Homo sapiens: one gene and its partners. The protein of the gene in region 1 interacts with the protein of each later gene in a biochemical or structural test. Each region holds a gene or a part of one and is shown in the gene's direction. Other genes may lie near its edges.

Region 1 (3,750 bases):
TCTCTCCTACTTTCCAATATTCTTTCTTCTAATCTGTTTTTCTTGTTATCTTGAGTTTACAAAATTTCTGGTTTTATTTATGCTGTGGATATTTTTCCAGCCTTTTCCCTATGGGCTGTCTGGGTGCAGGTTATGGGTGATACATGGATAATAGGTGCATCTTGGTTTAGAGGGTAACTCTTTATTTCTTACTGCACTTATGGAACACGAGAAAAAAAAGTATTAAATAATGGCTATGGTAATGGATATCTTTGTCTTATTCCTTACTTTAATGGAATTGCATTTATCATGAACCATGGTGCTGTTATTTCAGATAGCCTTTATCCTGTTAAAATTCTCTGCTGTTTCTAGATAACTACAATGATCTTATGGTTTTCTTCTTTGATCTATAAATATGATGAATATATTGAAAATAGATTTCCTAAGATTGAACCATCTTTGCATTCCTGATAGGAGTCATTATGTATTCACCTTTTAGCAGATAGTTAGAGTCGATTTGGATTGAATGTATTACTGTGGATTGTTCTACTGTAAGTGAGATGATTGACATTGTATCCTTAAGAGCTGTGCAATTCTCATTTTCTAGTCTGCTTCCATTGACTACCTGCATTACTGGTTTCTGAATTGATTCCTAATTAACTACTTCCTGTTTCTCCAAGCTGATGATTTAGTCTCCCTCATCCTTTCTATAGCCAGTTGCATCTTCACTGCTGATTCCCTGCCTCCTTTTCTCCTGTAAGTTCATCTTTTTTTTTTGACGGAGTCTCACTCTGTCGCCCAGGCTGGAGTGCAGTGGCATGATCTTGGCTCACTGCAAGCTCTGCCTCCTGGGTTCATGCCATTCTCCTGCCTGGGCCTCCCAAGTAGGTGGGACCACAGGCACCTGCCACCATGCCTGGCTAATTTTTTTGTATTGTTAGTAGAGACAGGGTTTCACCATGTTAGCCTTATAGCCTCTTTACCTGGGTGTTCTGGAGTCAGGGTGGAGCTGAGCTCTAATGCTGCTGACATTGTTCCAGCCTTCTCTCTATGGGCTGTCTGGGTGCTGGTTATGGGTGATACATGGATAATAGGTGTACCTTGGTTTAGAGGGTAATTCTTCCTTTCTTTAGCTTTTTCTTTTTGAATGGAGGTAAAATTAACGTAACATAAAATTAACCATTAACTGTTTTTAAACGTACAATTCAGTGACATTTATAGAATATTCACAGTGTTGGACAACCATCATCTCTATCTAGTTCTCAGAAATTTTCATCACCTCTAAAAGAAACCCTGTACTCATTAAGCAGTCACTCCCCATTTCCCTTTCCCTCCAGCCTCTGGCAACTATTAATAGTAGTCTACTTTCTGTCTCTATGGATTTACCTGTTTGGGATGTTTCATGTAAATGGAATCATACAATATGTGACCTTTTGTGTTGGGGTACACAAATGTTCATAGCAGCAGTATTCACAACAGCCAAAAAGTGGAAACAACCCAACTATGCATCAACTGCTGAATGGATAAACAAAATGTGGGATATCTATACAATGGAATATTATTCAGTCATGCAAAAAAATGAAGTGCTGATACATGCTATAATGTGGTGAACTTTGAAAACGTTATGCTAAATGAAAGAAGCCAGCCTTTCCTGTGGGCTTTGTGGAAAATAAGCTTAGAAAACTTACAGTTAATCTTGGTATGGGAAGAGCAGTGTAAAAGTCAGAAATCCATTTTTAACCAACACAGACCAGAGTTGACATCTTATCAGCCCATCTCATTTTGTGCACTGCTTCAGCTATGGATGTTAATAAAATTAAATTTCTCACTAAACAAGTGTGATGCCAAAGAACCTTCCACAAGTTCTGCAGCTGTCACTGCTTGGTGCTTAAACATGTTGGACAGTATTAATGCAAAAACTGCTTTTTCTTTTTCAGTAAGAGATGCTAAAAACCTTGTACCTATGGACCCCAATGGCCTGTCAGATCCCTACGTAAAACTGAAACTGATTCCCGATCCCAAAAGTGAGAGCAAACAGAAGACCAAAACCATCAAATGCTCCCTCAACCCTGAGTGGAATGAGACATTTAGATTGTAAGTGGAAATGACTGCAGTGAGCATGGGTGGTGGAGGTTGGGTTATGTGCCACCTGAAATCAGGGAGTTCCTCCTCCCTTAGCTCCTGTTTCCTTCCTTCCCTACCTCCCTCCTTTTCTGTCTTCTCCATCCCTCACTCCTATCTTTCCCTCCCTTCTTTTCCATCTGCAATTTTGTATTGTGAGCCAAGAAAAAAAATTAGAGCTATTTTTTTAATAGAGATGAGAATGCCTGTGGTGTGGGGGAGTGGGTAGGACAGGAAATGGTGTGATGTGTTGCTAAGTGAAGGCAAGTTGTGGGAGAAATGATGGGGCTCAGCAAATAGGGGAACATAACCTACAGGGTGTGGTGACAGCCTCTCTAGAGTTGGGTTTATGGATGATGCTTGGCCTGCAGCCTTCTGGGACATCTCCACCAGCCTCCCTTGAGGGTCTTCCCTGGCCAGGGCTCCAAGAATCTGGGAGTCTCTTTCTTGTACATCTAGGCATCAGGAGTTGGTTATAACAGCCAATTCACTGAGCATATATGATGTGTGACAAACACTGGGTTAAGCGATCCGACTTCATCGGCTCATTTTATTCCCAATGTAGCAATAGGGCTTATAGAGGTTAAAGAGTATGCCCAAAGTCCCATAGCAAATATGGGGTGGAGTGGGATTCAGCTTCTGGCAGTCTGACTTTAGCGGTCATACTTTTTTAGCCACCAGCTAGAAGCACAGTTCCTTGTCCTGTCTCCTCTTCCCTCTCTCAGGGCAAAGCTGGGCCCCTTCTCAGCCTCAGTCAAGGACATGTCTCAGAACAGACAATTTCCCCAGGATTTTTCTCCATGCATTTCCTCAGCCTCATTCTCAACCCACCTGTGTGCAGATATACACATGTACACACCCAATTATGCAATTGATATCTGTATTTCTTATAGGCAATAGGAATTCCTGAATATCCTGAACCCTATTAAGACATAAGATAACAAAAGTAGTTAGAACTGTTCTTGTCATAGCCAGTCTAAGACCTCTGCCTGTTTAAGCCACAGGCTGTCAAACAGAAAAAGCTCTCACTCCCTGGAGAGCTAGCCTGGGATGGAAACTGAATATGTTTCTTTCAGCAGCTTGTAATCTTTAAAACTTTCTACCTCCAGGTCTTGTCCTCTTGTACATTTATTCTGCTTGAGAAATTACTACAACCTCCACTGATGTCTTTTCTTTTTCTCTATGCAGTCAGCTGAAAGAATCGGACAAAGACAGAAGACTGTCAGTAGAGATTTGGGATTGGGATTTGACCAGCAGGAATGACTTCATGGGATCTTTGTCCTTTGGGATTTCTGAACTTCAGAAAGCCAGTGTTGATGGCTGGTAAGTAAGATTTTGCCTTGAAAGCTACCATACAGCTTGCTCCATCAAACGCGGGGTCAAGTATGTTTTCCTTTTTCTCCAAAAATTGAAATACTAAAACAGAGTCCCAAAGTGAAGTCTGGTTGATTGGATCTGCCTTGCAGATATGTTTTGTTTGGTCCTTGTACTAAAAACAAAAAAGAAAGAGGCCAGGCCTCGTGTCTGACACCTGTCATCCCAGCACTCTGGGAGGCCGAGGCAGGTAGATCACTTGAGCTCAGGAGTTTAAGACCAGTCTGGGCAACATGGTGAAACCCCATCTCTATCAAAAACATGAAAAATTAGCTG
Region 2 (3,750 bases), on another chromosome or scaffold:
AACCACAGCTTCTAGTGGTTTCCATGTGTCTTAAATCACCACCTATATCCTGATAAACTCCCAAATTTATATACTAGCCCCGACCTTTCCTGTATGATCCAGACCTTGCCGGTCACAAAGACACTAAGTAAGAAATTCTGGATGGTTCAGTGCAAAACCTACCCTGTCTGGAAAAACAACTGCAAGTTTATGTTCTGTTGGCAACTGGTCAGTGGTTTTCTCTTCCAATATGAAAGACAGGGCATGTATTTTGCACAAGTCCCTGGAAGCAAGCCAAGAGTTGCAGAGTCAGTAGGTTAATAACTTCCATTGAGTGAAATGGGCTTTCAACACATTGACCGGACTCACTCTTCTTTTATAGTCCTTCCTATGACTGGATGAGAAGAGTCACACAGAGGAAAAAAGTATCCAAGAAGGGAAAAGCCTGTCTGCTGTTTGACCATCTGGAGCCCATTGAATTGGCTGAGCACCTCACTTTTCTGGAGCATAAATCTTTTAGAAGGATCTCAGTAAGAAACTTGACATTTATTCTTCCAAGGATAACAACCACCATGCCAACTTTCCCAAGAGCTGCATTTTCATACTCTGAAGTGTTGGCAGCTTCTATCACTGTGCTCTGCTGGAGAAGTGCCCTTAATTCACAGGAACAATCCCTTTTAACCAAAGATAAATATTATCCTGTCTTTATTTTATGGCTCAGGAGCTATATTTCTGTCGCTATTTTCAATGTCTCCTTTCATAGGATTAAAGCGTGATTTTTCTAAACAGTCAGTGGAGATTTAACCATTCAAGGTTGATTTAGCTCCATTGACTTCTCCCAAGTGAACATGTTTTGCTAGGCCCTTCGTTTTTGGGAAAAAATATTTAGTTAGGTTCGGATTTGTATAAATGGCTAATTATGGGTATAGGTTGAAAATAGGAATTGTAGACTTTAAGGAGAATCTCAACATCAGGTTGTTTCTTTCCCAGAGATAGAGATCCTGAATTAAACTTTTCTTTCCTACTCATCTTGATGGAGCCTCATTCCTTCTCTAACTCCCCCTTTTCTTTCTCTGGTCTGTGATTTCTTAGCCTCCTGCTCTCTCTCCTCCCGTTATGGTAAACATTTTCCACACTGGTTCACAATCAGCCAGCCACTTTGCTTTGTCTCGCCAAGCTGTGGGGAAGTCGCTCCTCCTCCTTTTCCAAGGTGTCAGAGAATGAATTACATTATTGCGTGCAAAGAAGACTGTCTTGGTTAGAAGCATGAATTTCTGAAAGACTGATTCTTTCACTAAGTAATCCTACTTGGAGAGGACCTTAACAATTCCCCACAGGCAGGCCATGGGAGTCCCCTGCACAGTTTATATGATAGAAAGCTCTTATGTATTTTTTGACATCCATGCTAACATTCTGAAAATGTGTTTGCCTTGCTAAAGAGCAGCCTTACTTCAATTAATTTTTTTTCTTCTGTCTTCTTTTTCTTGAAACAACTTTACAACTGATGCTAACTTGAAATAATTATATTTACGTTCATTTCCTCGTCTTTATTGTATACCGTTATATCTTTAACTTGCCTGATTGGAATCACCAGCAGTGTGTTAAAAATGGAGATTCTTGGCCGGGCGCGCCTTTAATCCCAGCACTTTGGGAGGCCAAGGTGGGCAGATCATGAGGTCAAGAGATCGAGACCTTCCTGGCCAACGTGGTGAAACCCCATCTCTACTAAAAATACTAAAAAATTTAGCCAGGTGTGGCAGCTTGCACCTGTAGTCCCAGCTACTCAGGAGGCTGAGGCAGGAGAATTGCTTGAACCTGGGAGGCGGAGATTGCAGTGAGCCGAGATCGCGCCACTGCACTCCAGCCTGGCAATAGAGCGACAGTCGGTTAAAAAAAAAAAAAAAAGGAGATTCTTAGGTTTTTCTTCTGAAGATAGTGATCATTTACACCTAGAGTGTTCCCAGGAACCAGCATTTTACCAAGTGCCACAGGTGAATCTTATCACCTAGTAAATTTTGAACTCATTGGAATACAACTTTGAATCTTGCCTCTTTCTCCTCCCACCAAAGCTGTGATGTGTAGTAGTGGGTGTCTTTGCGTGGGGTGAGTAGTGGGGTTTGAAAAGCAGCAAAATAACATTTTAAAGACACATGTATATTCAAACTTTTAGGATGCCATTGTAAATGTGAAATAAAAGAAATTGTGTTGTTACGAAACAATATCTCACCTTTTCTATGCAATATTCTAATTTTTGATTTTACAAAGGCTCTATTATAATTCAGAGTCTCTGAATCTTCCTTTCCTAGTTCACTGATTACCAAAGCTATGTCATCCATGGCTGCCTGGAGAATAATCCAACCTTGGAAAGATCGATTGCTTTATTTAATGGAATCTCTAAGTGGGTCCAGTTGATGGTTCTTAGCAAACCAACCCCCCAGCAAAGGGCAGAAGTCATCACAAAGTTTATCAATGTTGCAAAGGTATGTCTGGTAATCAGACTGGGTTCTTGAGTTCTAGATGTTCGTTCACTCTGTTGAGAAAAGTCATTGAGGAAATGTGGCGTTCACAGTATAAGGGCATCGGACAACTAAACTACTCGCTGATATCTAATGAACAAATCGTATTTTTGTCATGCAAGAAGATTGCTTTCAGAAAGCAATGCTTAGAAGCATTTAATGTAGCTATTTCTCTGTGAAATAATAGATATATTTCTCTGATTCTATTTGTGCTTCATTTTAAATTGATGTAATGTTTTCCTTAGCTTCTTGTTATTAAAATTGTGCATAAATTTACTTGTAATTCAGAAAGTTTAGAATAATTTGAAAATCCTTAAAAAGCATTGATGCATTTTTATTGCAGAAGCTCCTTCAGCTCAAAAATTTTAACACCCTGATGGCAGTGGTGGGAGGCCTCAGTCATAGTTCCATTTCACGCCTCAAAGAGACCCATTCTCATCTTTCTTCAGAAGTTACAAAGGTATAGTAGACTTGATCCTAATCAAAAGTAAAAAAATGCATTTGTAAATTGTTCAGGTTTAGTATACGCCTAACAAATGTCACTCAGAGTGGGAAAGTTTTCCTCTTAAACCAGTGGTAGGTTATAAATGGGGACAAAGTAGAAAGGGAATAACCACACCAGCTGAGTCCACCTGGAAAAACAGGTTGGAGGTGGTGGTAAGTGTCCTAGGAAGAATGCTTTGACATACCATTAGAATACTGTAGTGGTGGCCGGGCACGGTGGCTCACACCTGTAATCCCAGTACTTTGGGAGGCTGAGGCGGGCGGATCACAAGGTCAGGAGATCTATACCATCCTGGCTAACGTGGTGAAACCCCGTCTCTACTAAAAATACAAAAAAAATTAGCCGGGTGTGGTGGCAGGCACCTGTAGTCCCAGTTACTGGGGAGGCTGAGGCAGGAGAATGGCATGAACCTGGGAGGCAGAGCTTGCAGTGAGCCGAGATCACCCCACTGCACTCCAACCTGGGCGATAGAGCGAGACTCCATCTCAAAAAAAAAAAAACCAAAAAAAAAAAAAAAAACTCAACATATTGTAGTGGTAAATATTCAACAGGTATCTATTTGGTCCTACTATGTGATAGGCATTGTGATACACAAGGTAAATAAGACAGAAATAGTTCCTACCCTACCTCCTGAAATAAAGTCATTGAATGACTATTCATAACACTGTGTTGGGCACATCAGAAGATAGAAAGGGGAAGACATAGGCCTTGTATAGAAATCCTCAGATTTATAACTGAATTGTCATGAAT
Region 3 (3,750 bases), on another chromosome or scaffold:
TAAACTGCAAATAAAACAAACCAGGGTCCCCCCTCTGTCTTGTTCACAGCTGTGTCCCCAAGACCTAAAATAAGGCCTGGCACCCAAGAGGTGCTAAGTTTCACAACATTTACTCTGCCTTGTTCAGGGCGCTTTACATTTGCTTCTTCACTTTCCACACCACCATGTAATGTAGATACTAATATTATTTCCAATCTCATTTCACAGATGAGAAACGAAAGTTGATAGATGTCACAAATAGAAAAGTATATACTTAGGTATAATGCCCCCTTTATTTTGCATAGATGTTGGTGGCTGCTATCATCCTGATCTGTGCCCCTGTTTAAAACTACTTGAATAGACATGGTGCCAACACTGTCTCTTATAGTCAGAGATGGGTGAGAATGGGAGCCATTACTTATTTAAATTCCTGCGGTCGAGCGGAAGGCAGAAGGACAGTTAGGTATCCGTGTTCCACCGCTTCCCTGTCTGGGCACGTCCTTCAGGGCACAGTTGGACCCCCAGACCCCTGGGCTTTTGTGTACGCTGGCTGGGCCCAGAGAGAGCTTTCCACTAGATGTCCCCAGAAGTCAGAACCTTAAGGTCCTCCTTTGGGCATTTCCGTTTCTGCGAGAGCTTCCCGTGTTCTGGCCTAGGCAGGAACGGATTGGCAGTCTAGCAACACACAGGGCAATTTTTACTTTATTATTTTATTGTATGTATGTATTTATTTATTTGAGTCGGAGTCTCGCTCTGCTGCCCAGGCTGGAGTGCAGTGGCGCGATCTCGGTTCACTGCAACCTCCGCCTCTCAGGTTCAAGGGATTCTCCTGCCTCAGCCTCCCGAGTAACTGGGATTACAGGCACCCCCCACCACGCCTGGCTAATTTTAATTTTTTTTATTTATTTATTTGGAAAGAGGTTGCATCATGTTGGCCAGGCTAGTCTTGAACTCCTGACCTTAAGTGATCCACCCGCCTCGGCCTCTCAAAGTGGTAGGATTACAGGCATGAGCCACCGCGCCCGGGAAAAAGAGACCAATTCTTAGTTCATCCAGAGTAACCCTCTCCTGCCTTAGTCCAGCCTGGACTAAGTCCTTCCGGAGTTGGTGTGCATCAGAACAAAAACCTCGTGAGGGGAGAACACCCTCCGGAAGCACAGTTTTAAAGTTTATTTTTAACATTTTAATACTCTACTTTTTAAATTGCCCATCGTTACCCACGATAGTGAAATGAAAATTAAGCTCCCCTGGGGTTGCCCCGTCAACCCTCCCCGCACCAAGTGGAACAGGCGGAGCTCGAGCTATGCCACATAGGGGCGGGGAAGCAGCCCGGCGGTCCTCATGGGAATGTGCCGTACACTTCACCTCTTTCGCTTCTCGCTCTACATCATCCCTGAGAAGCCTTTTTAAACACTTGAATGTGCTTGTTTCAGAGTGTATTTGTAAAGTGCAGTCAGATTTTGTTGTACGGAAGACGGGACTGTGATGCCTTGCAATTTCCCTCTGCCTTTTGCATTACATGGCGCCGCCATCTTGAGCAGAAATGTATCATGGGGCTCGCCATTTTGCATGGTCGAGCGGGTATTTCCGGTTCCGGCGGGGGGCTTTTCTCTCTCTCTTTCACTGCAAGGCGGCGGCAGGAGAGGTTGTGGTGCTAGTTTCTCTAAGCCATCCAGTGCCATCCTCGTCGCTGCAGCGACACACGCTCTCGCCGCCGCCATGACTGAGCAGATGACCCTTCGTGGCACCCTCAAGGGCCACAACGGCTGGGTAACCCAGATCGCTACTACCCCGCAGTTCCCGGACATGATCCTCTCCGCCTCTCGAGGTACGGACTAAGGTAGATTTCAGGACCCGAGATTGCAGGGCTGGGGGATTCCGCGTGTCGTGTAGGGAATTCCGCGTGTGGTGTGGCAGGCCGGTGGCGCGCGAGTTGGCGGGGACTGACAGACTTCTCTGCCCCATTGTGAATTGGGGCGTGCGGACCCGAGCCTAGGCCTCAACCCGGGCGAACCACATTGCAGATGAGAACCTACGTGTACATCAGCTCGCAGCTGCTAGGAGGGTTGGAGAGTTGGAAACTTTTAAAATATCTTTTGCCTTCTCCTTCGTAGTGTGGCCGGGGGCCTACGGGCCGGGCGGGGCGGTGATGACCCCAACATGCCATCTGAGTGTCGGTGCTGAAATCCAGAGGCTGTTTCTGAGCTGCCGCCCGGCCCAAGGCTCGTGGGGAGGCAGGTGGACTCCAGAGGACCTCGTGGCTCAAGTGTCGGCCTACTTTTTCTGCCCCTGGTTCTCCCCGTCCCTATCCCTGTGTTCCTGACTGCGTTTAGACGCTTCTTGTGCTTCCGCTTTGCTGCTACACTGTTAAGAATTGTCTGACTTTTGAATCATGTCTGGCTGTTAATCGTAAAATTTGTTGAGTGGGACAGGTTTCAGTAAAAGCATCCAATCCTGTAGCGCCTGAAGTGGCTTTTCCAGCATTCATTACTACATTTCTGTCGGCCCTCAGAGGTAGGCATAGGAGGCCCCAGCTACTCTACAGCCACAAACTGCTGTGCATTTGGTTGCAGAGAAGACACAAAGTGGCTGTTGAGTTCGTCTGAGTTTCAGGAAAGGGTGTCTGTATTTCTGGCACCTAAATTAAGTTCTCAGGATACAGGCTGGGCGCGGTGGCTCACGCCTATAATCCCAGCACTTTGGAAGGCAGAGGCGAGTGGATCACTTGAGATCAGGAGTTAGAGACTAGCCTGGCCAATGGTGAAACCGCATCTCTAGTTAAAAAATTAGCCAGACGTGCTGGCAGGTGCCAGCTGGCCAAGTAATCCCAGCTACTTGGGAGGCTGAGGCGGGAGAATTGCTTGAACACGGGAGGTGGAGTTTGGAGTGAGCCGAGATCATGCCACTGCACTCCAGCCTGGGCGACAGAGCGAGACTCCATCTCAAGAAAAAAAAAAGTTATCAGGGTACAGTTTACCTCTACGTGCGTTTTTAGTCTGGAATAGAGCCACTCAGTCCTGGTCTGTAACTGCTCTTGTCTGTTGTTTCCATCCCTCCTTAAGCGTCCTTAGTTGTTGTTAACCCACTCATGACCTTGACACTTAGTGAATTATCCAGTGTGTTAAACGGGCTGCGGGTTCCTCACTGATTTTTCTTCTGTTTTACCTCCTTTAGATAAGACCATCATCATGTGGAAACTGACCAGGGATGAGACCAACTATGGAATTCCACAGCGTGCTCTGCGGGGTCACTCCCACTTTGTTAGTGATGTGGTTATCTCCTCAGATGGCCAGTTTGCCCTCTCAGGCTCCTGGGATGGAACCCTGCGCCTCTGGGATCTCACAACGCAAGTAGCTGCTCACTTAGCTCTGGGGCCTTGGGAAGAATCTGGGCAGAAGTGAGGTGGATGCAATTGGCTGGTTTCCCAGGGGAGATCCAGTCCATTTGGGAACTGGAAAGCAGAGCACACCTACAGAAGATGTTTGGCCTCCCTCACTTTAAATAAGTTACTCAGCATTGCTGAGGAGTGTGGCTGAACATTTTTGCCAGGTGCAAAAGTTCTGAGTGGGCAGCAGTTTGAACATGTTTTACCTTGAAAGCTCAGGTAATTGGCAGGTGGAATTAGAGGGTCCTGGTGATGACAGATGGCATTGTCAGCCAATCCCCAAGTGGGAGTGAGGACATGTCCTGCAATTCTGAAGGGATTCTCTGTCACTTGGCTCTTCTCTTTCATATACTCAGTCACTTGACTCTGTGATCAGAGCCAAATCC

The links.
Region 2: of the proteins of PRKCB (region 1) and RASGRP3, one has a biochemical effect on the other in vitro, tested with the Homo sapiens proteins (2 studies listed by BioGRID).
Region 3: the proteins of PRKCB (region 1) and RACK1 form a complex in vitro, tested with the Homo sapiens proteins (2 studies listed by BioGRID).

What each region holds. Positions count from the first base shown.
Region 1 is NC_000016.10:24,090,875-24,094,624, forward strand, and holds part of PRKCB (protein kinase C beta type), read left to right. Parts: intron 1-1,916; coding exon 1,917-2,073; intron 2,074-3,288; coding exon 3,289-3,423; intron 3,424-3,750. UniProt on the Homo sapiens protein: Calcium-activated, phospholipid- and diacylglycerol (DAG)-dependent serine/threonine-protein kinase involved in various cellular processes such as regulation of the B-cell receptor (BCR) signalosome, oxidative stress-induced apoptosis, androgen receptor-dependent transcription regulation, insulin signaling and endothelial cells proliferation.
Region 2 is NC_000002.12:33,521,594-33,525,343, forward strand, and holds part of RASGRP3 (ras guanyl-releasing protein 3), read left to right. Parts: intron 1-361; coding exon 362-509; intron 510-2,285; coding exon 2,286-2,459; intron 2,460-2,838; coding exon 2,839-2,955; intron 2,956-3,750. UniProt on the Homo sapiens protein: Guanine nucleotide exchange factor (GEF) for Ras and Rap1.
Region 3 is NC_000005.10:181,241,749-181,245,498, reverse strand, and holds the start of RACK1 (small ribosomal subunit protein RACK1), read left to right. Parts: upstream 1-1,592; 5' UTR 1,593-1,698; coding exon 1,699-1,807; intron 1,808-2,122; exon of another isoform or gene 2,123-2,185; intron 2,186-3,153; coding exon 3,154-3,325; intron 3,326-3,609; exon of another isoform or gene 3,610-3,681; intron 3,682-3,750. UniProt on the Homo sapiens protein: Scaffolding protein involved in the recruitment, assembly and/or regulation of a variety of signaling molecules. Interacts with a wide variety of proteins and plays a role in many cellular processes.